2 separate regions of the Homo sapiens genome follow, and region 2 is linked to region 1. The links come from fine-mapping of genetic effects on gene expression. A gene starts in region 1. The other region holds a variant in brackets. All regions are shown on one strand. Distances are from middle to middle. Region 1 holds the start of SDC4 (syndecan 4). Region 2 overlaps RBPJL (recombination signal binding protein for immunoglobulin kappa J region like).

Evidence for each region. PIP is the estimated chance that this variant, and not a neighbour inherited with it, causes the effect.
Region 2: its variant is fine-mapped to the expression of SDC4 in esophagus mucosa (GTEx, PIP above 0.99).

Annotation. Positions count from the first base shown.
Region 1 is chr20:45,344,953-45,354,304 of GRCh38, forward strand. SDC4 (syndecan 4) reads right to left here and starts at 3,472. Exons shown (of 5, transcript NM_002999.4): 1 at 3,373-3,472. The coding sequence starts at 3,432.
Region 2 is chr20:45,315,712-45,325,063 of GRCh38, forward strand. It overlaps RBPJL (recombination signal binding protein for immunoglobulin kappa J region like), which reads left to right. Exons shown (of 12, transcript NM_014276.4): 10 at 476-631; 11 at 766-869; 12 at 975-2,113. The coding sequence ends at 1,248. It also overlaps the pseudogene TRV-CAC14-1. Among named protein-coding and RNA genes, the nearest start is that of MATN4, 12 kb to the left of the region's middle. RefSeq lists an enhancer at 5,570-5,619. The variant A/G (reference allele first, on the strand shown) is at 5,017.

The sequences.
Region 1 (9,352 bases):
CAAACCAGACACCTTGCCCTATCAGAAGGACCTGGTTCTGACCTTAGGAAGCCACTGCATTGTTCCGAGCATCAATTTCCTGTAAAAATAGAGAAAATGGTACCTCGCAGTACTGGGAGATACTCATACTAGCAATAAATAACAGTAATGAACCATTTAGAATAAAGTTACATGCACGAATTTATTCATTCATACAAGCATTTCCTGAGTACAAACTAGGGGACAGGTATTTCACAAAAACAAATAGAGCAGAGTTCCTGCCCTCAGTGTGCGGGGGGAGAGAGGGAGGGATTCAGCATTTGGTGGAGTATGTTAATTCCCTCAAGTTAATTCCTTCAAGAGAGAGACCTCTTTTGAATAGTAGGTACTTAAGTTATTAATCAAATTGAGAGATGGAAAGGACTCTGGAGGCTACCCTGTTCAAACCTTTCATTTTAAGGTGGGGGATGTCAGCCCAGCGGGGAAAGAGGCCTCCCCCCAACCTCATGGAACCCTCCAAATCATGGCCCAAATATTTTCGTGGGTGTTTGATAACTCCCTGGGCTCAAGAAGTCCCAAGAGCTCTCACTGTTCACTCAAGGGTCCTAGAAGCCCCTAGGCTTCCGCCCCCACCCCTACTCCCATGTAATCAAGAAGAGGACGCTGTAGAAGACCAGAAATGTCCTTAAGCTAAAGTACACTTGATAGGTGATAGGTGGGGGACACTTCCCCACAACCGCCTGGGCCCGGGGCCAAGTCAGTAGGCTGTGCCCCTGGGTAGGAACACCTTTGGGTGGAGGGGACTCCCAAAACAAGGCTGCCTTTAATTGGCCTGAGAGGGAGTGGCAGGAAGGCAGATCAGGGAATGCTCCCAGCTGGACAGGAAGAACTGGTTTAGTATAGCAAGCCCAGCCAAACAGAGGAGAGGACAGCTGGGTACTGAGCCTGGGTTCCCTTCCAAAATATGGGGGTGGTAAGGGGAATGATGGAACAGTCGGGGGAACACCACCCACAATGGGAGGGCTACTAGTCAGAGATCCTGGGGTCCTGGATGCCCTCTACTAACCCAAAGTAGTACCATTTTACCTCTCACATTTGGGAAGTGGGCATAATAGAATCCCCATGTGACAGGTCTTTTTGTGAGGACAAAATGCACCAGATCTGTCATATAAAAAGTACTCTATCACTCCTAACTGCTATTAGCAAAGTCCTTCTCCCTGGGCCTCACTTTTCTCTACCTGCAAAAAGAAAAGGACACGCTGGATCATCTCTTCAGTCCGAGCCAACCGTGACTATGTCTGATTTTTCCAACCACAATCTAGAAAAGAGGGAGGGGACAGGCCAAAGGGGAAGCCCTGTGCCCCAGTTACAGGCAGGAGGTCTGTGACATTAGCCAGGAAGGGGAGAGCTGAGGTCAGGATGAGACTTGACACCTATCTCAGGAAGCAGCTGCCCAGGGCTGATGTCTCCTGCAGCTGATGGGTCACCCAGGCAGGACTGACACAGTCCCCTTCCCCCAAACTACATCCTTCAGAATGCCCCCAGGACACAGCTGACTGCTCAGCACCCTGAAGCACCTGAAGGCTCAGCAGCCCCTGGGAGGAAACTGGCATGTGACTGGGCACACGGTGACCTCAGCAACCTCCTGGGTCCTTTCCTCTTTTTCCCTGTACTGCCTAGGTGGTATCCCTTCGGATGCTTCCCCAGTTGCTTGACCCGACACATCCTTCAGGGCCTAGTTTAGAGCACTGTGCTAGAGGCAGAAGGCTTGGGTCCTCAGCCACTAACATTTTAGGCAAGGTAGCCTTTGGTTTAGGTTAAGTCATCACCTCACTCTGGCCTTGTTTCCTTCCACCTCAGAATTCCTTTGCCTTCCAGCCTAAAATCTCAACCTATTCTAAACCCGTCTTTAGTTACCAACGATGGGACACCTGGAGTAGCACAAAGAGTAGAAGTTAAGCTAAAGCAGAAACTTGAAAGCCTGGCTGCCTAAATTTCAATCTGACTCACCCATTTATTGTGTATTAACTGTGTGACCCTGGGCAAGTTACTTAACCTCTCTAGCCTCAGGACCAGTTTAAGAACAGTACACAGTAAGATTGTTGTTGGAATTAAGCTCCTGGATATACCCATTAGAAAGTTATTAGAGCAATGTCTGGCCCCCCGACAAAGGCGCTCCACGTTTGCAATCATCATGGCATGCCTGGAATTGTGCTGGAAGTATTGCCTAGGGTCTCATTCATTCCTCAAGAAGAGCCTGCAGGCAGAATCAACCTTCCGCTAAGTAAATTCAGAGGAACAGGAGCCCCAAGGCTTTCAAAGAAATTAACATTAATGGTTAAACTGCAAGGACTCACTCGCTCTGAAAACTGGGGCTAAAGGGCACAAAGGGGGCACAAAGCTCAGGCTGTGGGGGACAGATTGCCTTCACCAGTAATTCCCATGCCCCCCAACTTCCCAGATGAGATTGCCCCCCTCCTCCTAAGCCGGCTGCGGGCATGGATAGAGCTTCTGCTGGCCCAGGGACAGCTATGACGGAGGCCAGTGGACAGTGAGAAGGAAAGGTTTCCCTGGGCTGATTGAGGCCTTCTCTCCCCCCTACCCCCTTCACCTCACTCAAGGTGGATGCTTCAATTTTCTTATCTGCAATTGAGAAAAAATGAACACACTTCTTGCAGAAAGCAGAGGCTCAGCTCCTGGCTAAGTGTTGAGTCTAAACCATTCCTCTCCTCTGTCCTCGAAAAGAGCAGAGTCCCCAACTTTCTAGAAACCCTAACGCAGTGTCCCCTCTTGCCCCATTCCCTCAGACCCTTGGTGCAGTATTGGGAAGAGATTCAGAAGGGCAGGACTTTGCCCTAAGTCACAAGTCAATGACAGAGCTGGGGCCAGAACTGAGGTTAGGGCTCAGTTCTCCTTGGTGTGTGAAAGAGGGCCTCGCACAACCCTAAAACCCTCCCCCTTCCGAGTACACGCAGCCCCCCGACCCCCAGGGCCATCTCGGATCCTAAAGCTGTCTGCTCTGGGCGCCCCGAGAGCGAGGAGGGGATTCAGCGCTCCAAGCCTGCCCCAGGGTCACCAGGGAAGGGACGAGGGTGTGGGAGTTGAAGAGTTGACACCGGCTTAGTCACTAACGAGCCCGTAGCCCGCGGCGGGGCTGAGGCCCGGGGAGGCGGGAAGAGCAACAGGCGAGGGGCGCACGGCGCGTGAAGCCATCCCGGAGGCTGGCCCGTGACCCCGGAGCAAAGTTTCCAACAAAGTTTCCCGGGCCTCGGTGTCCGGTTGGGGGTAGCGTACCCCCGATCTGCCCCCCCCCATCCCACGCTCCGACGAACAAAGGAGGCACCGGCCTGCGCCCCCGCTTCGCCCCCAGCCCGGGAACCTCCAAGCACCCACCGACTCGGCGACTCCGCCTACGAAGAACAGCAGCAGCGCGAACAGACGGGCGGGGGCCATGGCACCGCGGACTGGAGAAGGCGCGCAGGCTGCGGCGAGTGGCCCCGGGCGGGCGCGCCACCCATCTTATAGGCGGCCTACCGGCCCCGCCCCGGCCCGCCCCCGCCCCGCCGCCCGCACCCCGCCCGGAATTCCCCAGTGGAAGCGAGGCCTGCGGGGCACTGCGCCCGCCCGCGGAGTTGGAAACCCCAAGGGACCCGCCCTGCCCGAGCCCGCCGGCTCCTACTCAACCCCTAGTCCTACCCTCCGGGAGCTCCAACTCCCTTTATTTATTTGACCCACTGCCAGGCAGGTCCCCAGAGATCACTGCGGCTAACCCCATTTTATAGTTGGGGAAACTAAGGCCCAGGGACGGGAAGGACTTCCCTAGGGTGTTGAGTTTAGACCAGCCTTCATACCGGGTGTGCTCCCCTCTGAAGACACAGAACTTCCCAAATGGGATGTGAACCGTGTTAAGACAGGGGACAGCAAACTATTCTGTAAAGGGCTAAATATTTTAGGTTTTGCGGGCCATACGATCCCTGTGGCAACTATTCAAACTCGAGCGTCGTAGCTCAAAAGCAGCCATAAATACTAAAGGAATGAGGGCAGCTAGGTCCTAATAAAACATTATTTATAGACACCGACATTTGAATTTAATATAATTTTCATGTGTCACGAAATATTATTATTCTTTTGACTTTATTCCCAACCATTTAAACATGCAAAAATCGGCTGGGCTCTATGGCTCACGCCTGTAATCCCAGCACTTTGGGAGGCCGAGGAATAGGAGGATCCCTTGAGCCCAGGAATTGGAGACCAGCCTGGGCAACCATAATGAGACCCCCATCTCTACAAAAAGTTTTTAAAGAAATTAACCAGGCATTGTGGTGCACCCCTGTGGCCCAGCTACTCTGGAGGCTGAGGTGGGAGGACTGCTTGAGCCAGAGAGGTGAAAGTTGCAGTGAGCCATGATCGCTCACTGCACTCCAGCCTGGGTGACCGAGTGAGACCCTGTCTCAAAAATAAATAAATAAATAAATAAATAAATAAATAAATAAATAAATGACATTTTATAATAAAAATGCAGGCCGGATGCAGTGAGTCATGCCTGTAATCCCAGCACTTTGGGAGGCTGAGGCGGCGGATCACTTGAGCTCAGGAGTTTGAGACCAGCCTGGCCAACATGCTGAAACCCCGTCTCTACAAAATACAAAAATTATCCAGGCATGGTTGCCTGCGCCTGTAATCCCAACTGCTCTGGAGGCTGAGGCAGGAGAATCGTTTGAACCCGAGGGGCGGAGGTTGCAGTGAACTGAGATCTCCCCACTGCACTCCAGCCTGGGCAACAGAGCAAAACTCCGTCTCAAAAAAATAAAAAATAAAAATGCAAAAACCATTCTTAGCAGTGGGCTGAACAAAAATAGGCGGTGGGCCTCAGCCACTCTGAGACCACTCTGACGCTGGTCTCAGAGTGGCTGACGTCTGTTCTAAGGGCTTCATCTACCAGATTTTGAACTTTTTCAAAAGTTTGATCTCTCTGAGAACTGGTCTGCAAGTTTATTTCCATTCTTAGGGTAAGCTTCCACCCTTTATAAGAGAAAGTTGTGTGTCCTCCTTACCCTTCATCCTCCTAACAGTGCATTGGTGGGAGCAGGTTGAGGGAAGAAGTGGAGGGGGGTGCTATATGGAGACTGTAAAATTCTCTGGGTCCCCAAGCACACGTACTGTTGGAATTATTGCAGGGTGTGAAGGTGGGCATTCTACGATGATCGAAGTACAAAAGAAGCCTAACCCTGTCTCTCCCTGACTTATGTATAAATCTTTCTAAGGGTGTAACATAGCCTTAGAAGTAGGACATTTTGGCCACTGTTGGCATATTATGAATTCATATACTTTGTGGAGTGGAGAATTGGTAGTGACTTCCCTTTTTCCACCTCTTAATTATTATCAAAGAATAAAAGTCTCTTGTGGCAGAGAACCTTGGCAGTAAAGCAAACTTCAAATGCTGACCACGGGGTTTCCACAGATTTAAAGGTAAGCAATGACTTTCAGTGGTTTTTAACATGCTTCCCTAGGATTTGGAACAAAACTGAGAAAATGAAGAAATCTCATGCCAGAATAAGAAATCCTTTTGCAAGTTAAATGGTTTGCAATCTTTGCTTTCCACAAAATTGCAGGGGGGCCTAATCTAGTTGTCAGTAGATAGATCATTAAATATAGAATAGGTAACTGTGATTTTAGTTATCTATTGTCACACTGTTGTAACAAGAGTTCTTCTGTTCCTACCAACTTTTATAAGTTTCTCAGCACTTACAGCCAGTGGTGTGCCAGTAAATGTTTGACAATTGGCTAGGGGAAGTGGCGAGTGCTAATTTGCCAATTTCTGTAGTGTAAATACTACCAGCATGGCTGATTTCAAGCTACCAATGAGATGTCACTGAACATGGAGCTGGGAAGATATATTTCTACCACACAGATACAATAGGTGCAAATAATCTCAAAAGCATGGATAACAGTAAAGTGTAGTGAGATAATTAGTAAGTGATGAGTTTTGAGTATTTATTTCCTTTATGGTTTTGTTTTTGTTTTTGTTTTTTTGAGACGGAGTCTCAATTTGTCACCCAGGCTGGAGTGCGGTGACGCAATCTCGGCTCACTGCAACCTCCGCCTCCCAAGTTCAAGCGATTCTCCTCAGCCTCCAGAGTAGCTGGGACTACAGGCACACACCACCATGCCCGGCTAATTTTTGTATTTTCAGTAGAGACAGGGTTTCACCATGTTGGCCAGGATGGTCTCGATATCCTGACCTCGTGATCTACCCGCCTCAGCCTCTCAAAGTGCTGGGATTACAGGTGTGAGCAACTGTACCCGGCCTCCTTTTTTTTTAATATAATTGTATGTTCATATAAATTAATTTTTAGTAATAGTTATGTTTAACAACTGGCTAATGACATAAAAAAAAAAGCAACAAAAAAAAAACAGGATCTCTCTCTGTAGCCCAGGCTGGAGTGCAGTGGCAAAATTATGGCTGATTGCAGCCTCAACCTCCCAGGCTCACGAGATCCTCCCACCTCAGCCTCCTGAGTAGTTGGGACTAGACATACGCCACCACGCACAGCTAATTATTATTATTATTGTTATTGTTATTATTATTATTATTATTATTATTTTGGTAGAGACACAGTCTTACTATGTTGCCCAGGCTGGGTTTGAAGGCCTGGGCTCAAGCAGTCCTCTCAACTTAGCTTCCCAAAGTGCTGGGATTACATGGCACCCAGCCACAAAATTTCTAAAAATTGACTTTCATGAACCACTACAAGATGGCTTTACCACACCATGGTTTGACAGCTATAAAAAATGAAAAATAGGAATAAAATTATTGCTAAAACCTGTTTCATTCTAGCAATATTCGTTGAGGTGTTTGTTTGTTTGTTTGTTTTTGACAAAGTCTCACTCCATCACCCAGGCTGGAGTGCAGTGGCACAACCTCTGCTCACTGCAACCTTAGCCTCCTGAGTTCAAGTGATTCTTGTGCCTCAGCCTCCCAAGTAGCTGGAATTACAGGTGCACATCACCATGCCTAGCTAATTTTAGTATTTTTAGTAGAGATGGGGTTTCGCCACATTGGCCAGGCTTGTCTCAAACTCCTGACTTCAAGTGACCCGCGTGCCTCGGCCTTCCAAAGTGCTGGTATTACAGGCATGAGCGACTATACCCAATCTCATGGAGGTTTTAGTGAGCTAATTGGAGAGAAAAATTGCCACAGCCACCTAATTAAGACAGGTATTTCTAAAACAACTTTACTTTTTCTACTTAATAATTATTTATCAAAGTTTGTAGGACTGGTTTAGAGAGTGATGTGATTTGGATGTTTGTCCCCTCCAAATCTCATGTTGAAATGTGATTCCTAATGTTGGAGGTGGGGCCTGGAGGTGACTGGATCCTGGGGCAGATCCCTCATGAATAGTTTAGCATTATCCACTTGGTGATAAATGAATTCTCACTCTCAGTTCACGCTGGATCTGGTTGTTTAAGAGTCTGGGAACTCCACCTTCCCTGTCTCTTGGTCCTGATGATGCCATGTGAGATGTCTGCTACCCCATTACCTTCCGCCATGATTGGAAGTTTCCTGAGCCCCTCGCCAGAAGCAAATGCTGGAGCCATGCTTGTATAGCCTGCAGAACTGTAAGCCAATTAAACCTCTTTTCTTTATAAATTACCCAATCTCATATATTTATAGTAACGCAAACAGCCTAACACAGCAAGCATATATTTATGTCAATTGTATACTTTAAATATGTATAGCTTATTTTATGCCAGTTGTACCTTAATGAAGCTGTTTAAATTATTGCAGGACTTTTTAAAAGAGTCATCAGTAAGCCTCTGACGCATTAAAAAAAAACACATTATGATAAAATTTTGTGGTGGAACATGGAGTAGAAATTTGACTTCAAATAGAAAAAGAAATGATGCAAAATGTCTGACTCTTAGAAAAGAGCTTGTTCATGTATTTTTTAAATGGATGATTGTAGGTATCGAATTGCTAGGGCATTTAATTTAACTGGATACATTTAAAAGAGTGATGTAATTGTTTTACTTTTACGTGTATAAATTTACAATATGCCAGAAATTACAACCTTTGCAACTATTTAAACTTTTGATGAAAAATGTTAAGCTATCAACTAAAAATTATGTCAAGGAGTACCTAGTCTTAAAATAATCATTTACAGAGTACACTAGCAAAAAAACAAAAACAAAAACTGAAAACAGCTCGTTTAGAGAGTTAATGGAAGTTCTTCTATAAAACTATCTTAACCTCCTGGAATTAAGGAAATAATTTCCCCTTCCCCAAGTTCTGAGAATCTCTAAAGGGATGCAACATGTTTGAATATAATTATTTGTGGATGTATGGGTCTTTAACCTGGGCTCCATGACTGGGGGCAGAGGACACATGCATGGTCAGTACTCCTCTAGGTTATGTGTCTCTGCATACATTATTTTGGGGCAAGAAACTTCAGATTCTTTCTTTATATCCACAAAAAGAGGATGTTTGGGGGATCCTCCTTTTGGGTGATCCTGACCCCCAAAGAGTTAAAAATAATTTGTCCAAAACCTGAGATTCTTTGAGAAGTTTTATTGGGTTCTTCTTTGGCCTCCAAAAAACAAAATGCAGTAGTCAAAGGTTTGTAATACTGAATAGGAGTTCCTAATTTCCTGCATGGGGCTGAGGTACAAAAACCCAAACAACCAAACAAAACCCACAGTGTTTACAGCCAGAAGTTCTTCATTAAAATCCTGTTTCCAGGACTTGCCAACTGGAGGAAAGTTTGTGAGTCCCTTTGCTCCTCCCTACAATGGAGATAATTCCCTCTTGAACTAATTAGGAGAATGGAATAAGGTGAAGTGGTGAACACATAACATATACTCACCTATGTTGGGTCCAGCACTCTTTCTGTATATTCTAACCTGAGATTGAGTGAGTCTGAGAGATGGCATTGGTCAAACACTTTACATCCTCCCCCTAGCTTCCTTTCAAGCAAAAGGAAATGATCTAGGACATCAACAGGCAGCCCCCTCCCATGGAGCTAAAAAATGAGCTCAGACCCAGCCTATAGCAGAGGTGGTGTCCCTCCCCCTTTTCTCAGACTTCCTAGGCCGGAGTTAACCAAGGCTAGGTGCACACCTGGTACATCCAGAGACACCTTAAATGCTACCTTCTCCTGGAATCCTCCATCCTCTTCTTTTAATTCTCATTTCTTCCTGCCTTGAGGTTTCTAGGACTCTATCTGTCCCACTCTTTGGGCAGGCATCCCTTTCTCACTCATGTTAGTTTTAGGTGAAGAGCACAGTCTTCAAAGTTAAAGAGACCTAGATTGCAATCTTGGTGGTATGGAGCAAGACACTTTTTCTCTCTGTGCCTCAGTTTTCTCATGTGTCC
Region 2 (9,352 bases), 29 kb before region 1:
GCCTGGGCGACAGAGCGAGATTCAGTCTCAAAAAAAAAAAAAGGAAGAAAGGAAGGAAGGAAGGAAGAAGAGAGAAAGAGAGAGAGAGAAAGAAAAAGAAAGAAAGAAAGAAAAGAAAGAGAAAGAAAAGAAAAAGAGAAAGGGAAAGAAAGAAAAGGAAGGAAGGAAAGAAAGAAAAAGAAAGAAAGGAAAAAAGAGAGAGAAAGGGAAAGAAAAAGAAAAGGAAGGAAGGAAGGAAAATAAAGAAAAAAGAAAGAAGAAAGAAGAAAGAAGAAATCAGCTAGCTCAACAAGCTTTCTTAACGCTAAGTGAGAGAACTTAAGGGCACTGTCCAAGCTGAGGGGACAAGTGAACCCCAGAGCCTAGGATTAGTATCCAGTTCGGTCTAACGCAGAAGCCCACGCGCCATGCTGGCTCCCTACACTGGTGGCCACCATGAGAAGCTTCGGCCTCGTCCCCTTGGGTCTCCTCCCAGGCCTCTCCCTGCCCCAAGGAGGCGAACAGGGCTCTGCTTAACGACAGCTCTTGCTGGACCATCATCGGCACCGAGTCGGTGGAATTTTCCTTCAGCACCAGCCTGGCGTGTACCCTGGAGCCGGTCACTCCGGTGCCTCTCATCAGCACCCTAGAGGTGAAGCCGGGCGCTAGGGGCGTTGGGCAGGGGGACCCTGCCTGCACTGGGCAGTGGTGGTGCTAGTGAGTGGGGGGCAGCGGGTTCCCGCCCTACTTGGTTCTCTCACCTCACCTGGTCCCACCCTCCCCCAGCTGAGCGGCGGGGGCGACGTGGCCACGCTGGAGCTCCACGGAGAGAACTTCCACGCGGGGCTCAAGGTGTGGTTTGGGGACGTGGAGGCAGAAACCATGTACAGGTACGGGGTGGTGAGGCAGCCTCTCTTGGGCCCCGGGGAGCAGGGGAAGGGGGTGCACGCGTCGTCGGAGTCGCCGCAGCCCTCACCCTGGTGCTCCACCCCCAGGAGCCCGCGGTCCCTGGTGTGCGTGGTGCCGGACGTGGCGGCCTTCTGCAGCGACTGGCGCTGGCTGCGCGCTCCCATCACAATCCCCATGAGCCTGGTGCGCGCCGACGGGCTCTTCTACCCTAGTGCCTTCTCCTTCACCTACACCCCGGAATACAGCGTGCGGCCGGGTCACCCCGGCGTCCCCGAGCCCGCCACCGACGCCGACGCGCTCCTGGAGAGCATCCATCAGGAGTTCACGCGCACCAACTTCCACCTCTTCATCCAGACTTAGGCGCGCCCGGTAGCCCCGGCTGCCCACCCTGGAGGGCTGCGCCCGCGCCAGGCGCGGGGACGTGTTTCTGGGTTCTAGGCCCTGCTTCCTTGCCCCTTTGCTGCAGAAGGGCAGCTGAAGGCTCACCCTAGAAACCGGGCCTGGTGGGTCTTACCCGGCTCACTCCCTCCCTTGTCCTTACACATACAGGAAGACAAGACCTGAGTGGTGCTGTCTTTGTGTCCGTCGTGTATGGCTCTCCCTGTCTTCATTTCTTCTCACTCTGTCTCTAAACCTCTCTCTCTCTCCCTTCCCCCTCAGTACTTAGTCTACAGACCTATGTGCGTGTCCCTATCCTTCTGTCCTTTTCTCTCTTCAGCTCTCCCTGCCTCTCACACACAATTTTACATGCCCCGAGGAGCCAAGTTTGGGACATTTACCCTCCAGGCATCTGTGTCCCCTCTTGAAGAGAAAACACACAGCTTCACACATCCAGGCATAGGGGGCAAGCTCTTGGGGCATCAGGACCCTGGAGCACCAGGTCCTTCCTGGAATATTAGATCCACCTGGAGCACCGGGTCTCTCTAAGTCTCACCTGGGGAATTCGGTCCCACCTGGGGCACCAGTTCCCACCTAGAGCACTGTGTCCTGCCCTAGAGCACAAAGACCTGCTCCTCCCGAGACTCTCTCTGACTGCAGCCAGGCATAGTACCTTTGCCTGTGTTTGCTCCCTGGTCCACAGATTTGGTGGCTGGGCAGGTGCCTGGACAGTGATGAGGTCTTGCCGCCTTAACTGTCCCCCCCAGTCACTTCTCCCACAGGCCCAGCAGGACGCAGTCCTGAGGATCAGGGATTCTACAGCTGCATTAAAATCAATCCTATCCAAGGCAGAGTTTGGTCTGTATGAGCCACCTCCCCAAGTGTGCCTCCCCCAACCCTCGCACCAACACACAAAAGAGGGGACCTGCACAGAAAGAAAAGAACCACAAGTCTGATGGAGCAGAGAGCCTACCTTTTGGACGTTTTCTAGAGGAGGAACAGGGTGCAGAGGCAGCTGGCATCCTGAGTCCCTGTCCCTGCCCTGGGGTTGTTACCCTACTAGCTATCTCTCCATCCCAAGCAAGGGTGCACCCCAGGCCCAGAGGTGACCACGGGACCCTTTCAAAACAAAGCTTTCCCAGGATAGCCCTGGGCAGAACTCCTGGGATTGACTGGGCAGTAATGTAGTTGAGAGGGGGGCCTCTCTGCATGGGGCTGATGGACAGAATCACAATCTATTCCCCACCAGCCTACCCACCCTAGGTACCACTCTACCCAGTCTGTGCTTTATAGGGAAGGAAAAAAAAACCAGGCAGAACACTGGCTTGGGCTATTGGAATCAAGGACACAGATAAGTATCATGGGTGCCAGCTACCTGCACCAGCCTCTGGTGGTGCCTGATGGGAAAACTGGTCTGAAATGTGGGTTCTAGGTTCTAACCCTCTGGAGAAGAGCTTGCCCTCCTAAGGAAGAGCTCATTTCTTGTAAAACTCCTCCCCCAGGGTATGGAAAGTCCCATGAGAAAAAAGAAACGAACAATACGCAGAGGAGAGGAAATGGGGTATGTTCTTTAGCCTTCCCAAAGTCTTGACTAAGTTCTGCCATCTGCCATCAGCAGGCTGCAACCCACTGTGAGGGGTGAGGAAGAAGCCTGTGGCCCCTGAAGGTGAATCTTGGCTGAGGAAGGCAGCAAATGAGTTGAATGGGAAATGTCCCTGAAATGAGCGCCTGACTCACCGTCCATGGTGGTGTTGAAGCAGGCAGCCAGGAGGGAGGAGGCTGAGAAGAGTGTCATAGCGCACCACATGGGGAATTGGGGCTCAAGCGCTCATCGTCCAGCCCTGCCCCCAAAGTCTTCCTCCACCACTCCTCAAGGCAGGAGTCCCAGAAGCCAATAATCTAGGTTGGACCAAAAGCCCAGACCCAGCCATACAGCTCTGTCTTAGTCCTCACCCATCTCAGGGGATCCTATAACCTTTGGTGTCCCCAAGGTATCCATCTGGAAGTCTGTGACCAAAGCTCCAGCCCTGGCCTAGCTTCTGAGTTCCAGCTGCTGAAACTGTCCTTGGAGGTCTTCCTTGCACTGAGTCTGAAGCCATCTAACATCAAACTCCTTTCCCTCTCCACCTGCCTTGCAGCACCACCTCTAGCTCCTTCCCCCACACCACCCAGTCACCCAGGCCTAAGGATCCCACCCCCACTTCCACACTACCATATGCCTCCTGTTTTCCTCTCCCTCCACTACTGCCCTGCCAGGTCCTGTGTCGCCTCTTCCAAAATTTCCCAAACTACTCTAGGTAGAACTAGCTATATAATTTGTGGGCCCCAGTGCAAAATGGCCCGTTGTTCAAAAATTATTCAAGAATTTCAATTCGACTGAACACGGGATTAAAAAAAAAAAAAGAACTTCAAGACAGCCACAGGAAATGATGAAACCAAGTGCAGGGGCCTTCCAAGCACAGGCTGCACAACCACGAAGCCAGCCCTGGCCCCAGGCTTTTTTCTTGTATTCCCACAGACCCTCAATGGGACCATATCGACTGCCTGCTTTGGATCAAAGGTTTTACCTACATGCCCATTGTCTCCTCTAGGCTGCCATCTTCATGGGGAAAGGAGCTCTTATCTCTGCATGTCCTAAAGGGTGCATCACAATGCCTCGCATGTTGAGTTGGTGCTCAATAAACAGTGAATTGCATTATATGGCATTGGCAGATATTTAGATATTGCTAATGCAAAGTGAAACCGGCAGGTGGCACTGTTCTCCACCCGAGCATTAAGTTCTCATTTTATTTATATTTAAAAACCGGGCCTTAATCCCAGCCCTTTGGTAGGCCGAGGCGCAAGGATCACTTAAGCCCAGGAGTTCGAGACCACCCTGGGCAACATAACAAGACCCCCTCCCCCATCTCTACAAAAAAATGTAAAAATAGGGCCGGGCGCAGTGGCTCACGCCTGTAATCCCAGCACTTTGGGAGGCCGAGGCGGGCGGATCACGAGGTCAGGAGATAAGAGACCAACCTGGCTAACCCGGTGAAACCCCGTCTCTACCAAAAAATACAAAAAATTAGCCAGGCGTGGTGGCGGGCGACTGTAGTCCCAGCTACTTGGGAGGCTGAGGCAGGAGAATGGCGTGAACCCGGGAGGCGGAGCTTGCAGTGAGCCGAGATCGTGCCACTGCACTCCAGCCTGGGGGACAGAGTGAGACTCCGTCTCAAAAAAATAAAAAAATAATAATAATAATTAGCCGGTGTGGTGGTGCACGCCTGTAGTCCCAGCTATGGGGTGGGGGCGGGGGGATGCTGAGGAGGGAGGATCACTGGAGCACAGGTAGTGGAAGCTGCAGTGAGCTGTGATTGTGCCACTACACTCCAGCCTGGGTGACAGAGGGAGACCCTTTGGGGGTTTATGCACAGAATTCTACATACTTCCAGGGAATTTCCTAACACTAAAACCCATTTATGGATTAATTTAGTCCTCTTTATATTAGAATCATTTGCCACGCTATAAAAATTAATATACCGGGCCGGGCGCAGTGGCTCACGCCTGTAATCCCAGCACTTTGGGAGGTCGAGGTGGGTGGATCACCTGAGGTCAGGAGTTTGAGACCAGCCTGGCCAACATGGTGAAACCCTGTCTCTACTAAAAATTCAAAACATTAGCCAGGCGTGGTGGCGTGTGCCTGTAATCCCAGCTACTCAGGAGGCTGAGGCAGGAGAATTGCTTGAACCCAGGAGGCAGAGGCTGCAGCGA[A/G]CTGAGATCACGCCACTGCACTCCAGCCTAGGGTCTCTCCAGCAGAGTGAAACTCCGTCTCAAAAAAAAAAATAATACTAATAATATACCGGCCACGCCATGGAACAATTCTATTAACATCTCTGAGTGTGGAGCTCAGGCATCTGTATTGTTTGAAACCCTCCCATGTGAATCTAGTGAGCAGCCAGGGTTAAGAATCATGGCCCTAGTCAGTATTTCCTCCTCATTTTATAGATGGGGAAACTGAGGCTCCAAGAGAGGAGGCTAAGGTCACAGCAGATGGCAAAGCCTACAATTGATTCAAATCCTGCACTCCTACCACTAAATCTGGGGCTCTGAGTTTCTCTTCATTCTCATTCTACCACGCTGCTGTGTGTAGGTGACATGTGTGTTGCAGAGGGTGGGGATGGGGCATGTAGTGAGGATAAGGCCCAAATCTCCAATTTACCAGCTCTCATGCTGCCTGGTGTTCCACCATTATTAACAAGCTAGTTCCCCAGTAAGTACCGACCTTGGGGTTTCTCTCTCTTTCTTTCTTTCTTTTTTTTTTTTAACTTCTATTAAGTTATAACCACAGCATAGGTAAAATTCTCTGACAGCTTCCCCCTGGGTAGGGCACAGACCTGTGAAGATGGCAAGGGAAAGAGGAAGTGGTTTTAAGGGAAGTGAAACCCATAATACATCTATAAGGTTGTGGCCAGGCATGGTGGCTCACACTTGTAATCCTAGCACTTTGGGAGGCCGAGCCAGGCAGATCACTTCAGATCACTTGAGGTCAGGAGTTCCAGACCAGCCTGGCCAACATGGTAAAACCCCGTCTCTACTAAAAATACAAAAATAGGCTGGGCACGGTGGCTCACACCTGTAATCCCAGCTACTTGGGAGACTGGGACAGAAGAATCGCTTGAACCCAGGAGGCGAAAGTTGCAGTGAGCTGAGATCACGCCACTGCACTCCAGCTTGGGTGACAACAAGACTCTGTCTCAAAAAATAAAAAATACAAAATGTAGCCAGACGTGGTGGCGTGCACCTGTAGTCCCAGCTACTTGGGTGGCTGAGGCACAAGAATCGCTTGCACCTAGGAGGCAGAGGTTGCAGTGAGCCGAGATTGTGCCACTGCACTCCAGCCTGGGCAACAGAGCGAGACTGTCTAAAAAAAGAAAAACAAACAAACAAAACCATCTATAAGGTTTTGCCACAGACCAGCTCAGAACAGCCTCCTAGACAGGCTTGGCCCTGTTCCAGACCCTAAGGGACAAAGGCAGGCAGGGTAGCAGTGGCACAATAATGCATTTAGAGGGCAAAGTGATAAACCCCCACTACAGCTGGCTGCTTGCCACCAGATGGGCACTTTCACCTTTGCTATCTAATGTAAACTAATCATAAACCTTGTGGCATCCCATCATATTTACAGGTCCTCAAGGAGAGAGAATTATACAGGTTGTATATATAGGGCAGAAATCTTGCAGGCCATCTTAGAATTCTGTCTACTCCCCAAACAACATAGCAAATCATAAGTAGGGGAGATGTGTTTCACTTGTAGGCCTTCCCACACCCCATGCAGGCATTGTCCCATGGTTTTGCTACCTCTGAAGATTGGCAAGATCATGAACAAAAAGTGGGCCCATGCCTGGCTTCTGTAATGTAGTGGTTATCACATTCGCCTCACACATGAAAGGTCACCAGTTTGAGACCGGGCCAAAACACGAGATTTTCCCCCTAAATTTAGTGAGTTTAATCGAGGTTGGAAACAAACAGAAAACTAGTTAAACCTGTGCCTACATTTTGGCCGGGTGTGGTGGCTCATGCCTGTAATCCCAACACTTTGGGAGGCCGAGGTGGGCGGATCGCATGAGATCAGGAGTTTGAGACCAGCCTGGACAACATGGTGAAACCCTGTCTCTACTAAAAATACAAAAATTAGCCAGGCATTGTGGCACATGCCTGTAATCTCAGCTACTTGGGAGGCTGAGGCAGGAGAATCACTTGAACCTGGGAGGCAGAGATAGCAGTGAGCTGAGATCATACCATGGCACTCCAGCCTGGGCGACAGAGTGAGACTCCACCTCAAAAAATTAAAAAACAAAAAGTGGACCAATAGTGTCCAAAATCCATTTTGCATCCACTGCCCAATTCTCAGAAATATTATATATTATCAGAAATAACCAGAGTTGGCTCTCCAGACAGATAAAGCCCTAGTCGAGGTTGACCACTGATGGGGCTATGTCTGCCAGCATTTAGGATGGCTTCCAATGAGTCTTGTATCCAGGTGCTCCTGCCCCTGGGTGGTCTCCTGTCACAATGAATAGGGCTGACCCATGTGACCCATGCAATATTATGGAAGAGATAGTGGGTGACTTCCAAGCTAAGTCATAAAAGTCACTGTAGCTTCCACTTGGTGGCTCTCTTGGATCGCTTGTTCTGAGAGAAACCAGCTGCCGCATCACGAGGACTGTCAATCAGCTCTATGTGGGTCCACGCAATGAGGAACTGAGGCCTCCTGCCAAAATAGCCAGCACCAAGTTGTCAGAAATGTAACTGAGCCATCTTGGAAGTGGATCCTCCAGCCCAGTCAAGCTTTCAGATGACAGCAAGACCTGGCCAACGTCGACTGCAACCTCACAAGATGGAGCCAGAATCGCCCAGCTAATGCTCCTGACTTCTGACTCACAGAAACAATGTGAGATAATATTTATGTTGTTATAAGCCCCTAAGTTTGGGGGTAATTTTAAATATCAATAGATAATATGGGGGTCTTCTTTTTTTTTTTTTCTTTTTGAGATGGAGTCTCGCTCTGTCGCCCAGGTTGGAGTGCAGTGGCACGATCTCGGCTCACTGCAAGCTCCGCCTCCCCGCTTCACGCCATTCTCCTGCCTCAGCCTCCCGAGTAGCTGGGACTACAGACACCCGCCGCCACGCCCGGCTAATTTTTTTTGTACTTTTAGTAGAGATGGAGTTTCACCGTGTTAGCCAGGATCGTCTCAATCTCCTGGGGGGGTCTTCTTAAACTAATACTTTACCCAAAAAGATGGCACTGATGATGAGAACACCATATATTGAGCACTTATTGTGTGCTAAGCTCTGACTTGCCTCCCTATAGGCTGTTGGATCACAAGGTAACAGCTGGTAAAAGCTGAAACCCAAACCCAGAGGTCCTGACTCAGTCTCACACCATCCAAAGCAGCCCTAACAGGAATTTCTACAACTGGAAATGTTCTGTGTCTGCACCACCTGATACAGTAGCCACTAGCCACATGTGGCTGTTGAGCACTTAAAACAAGGCTAGTGCAACTAAGAAGCAGAATTTTTATTTTTACAATTATAATTAATTTAAATTTATAATATAGCCACAGTTCCCAGTGGCTACCATAGTGGTCAGCACAGATCTAACAGATGTGAGGGCCTTCTACAAGACACAAGTTAGGAGAACAGAGACCCACTCAACCTCATGGGACTCAGAAAAACAGTGTGGCAAAGTCTCAGGAGAGATTTAAGCTGCCACGAGATTTAAGACCAGAATCACTGGTTCAGAGGGGGTTTGCAGGGGCATGAACAGCCCCCAGTGAGGGAGCCTTGGGTGATATAAACCCCTTGATAGGCAGTGCAGTTGTTAGCACTCTAGAGCCCGACTGCCGGGGTTCAAATCTCACCTCTACAACTGGTAAGCTGTGTAGCTTTGAGCAAGGTATTTAACCTCTTAGATGCAGTTTCCCTATCTGTCAAATGGGGTTACTAATAGCACCTACTCTGTGGAGATCTGACAATTAAATGGGATCTGGTATAAAGCCCTAAGAATGGGTTCCTGGCCACATGGTGTGTATGGGAGGGTTTGCTCCAACTACCACCAATTCCTGTTTGCGTCCTTTCCCCAACCCCAGCAAAGTACTGGGCAACATGGTGCCAAAGGAAGATCACCAATGTCCAAGGACCTGAAATTAAGGTTCGACTCTCCAGACACACTAGGGGCAGGTTGCCCTCTTGGTAACAAGGATCTTACCCACCTCACAGGGTTGTTATAGTGGTCAAGAAAGATGGCCCATGCTATTTCCGGAGACTGCCAGCCAGCCTGGCTGCAGCAGTGGCCTGAGTGAAGCAGGCGGAGACAGTGGTGCGGAGAGCCCACATCTAGATGGGTGCCTGCCGCTCAGCAGCTCTCTTGTTGCCATGCAGGCTGACAGTTGCCAATTTTTTTTATTTCTTTTTCCCAAGAAAAGTGAGAAATCTGGATTTTTATGAGAAACCTCCTGATTTCTATGGATGGCAACTGACGCAAAGATTTTTGTGTTTGCTATTTAAACACAGTGCCACCTAAACAAAACCTTGAAGTAGGGGTGAT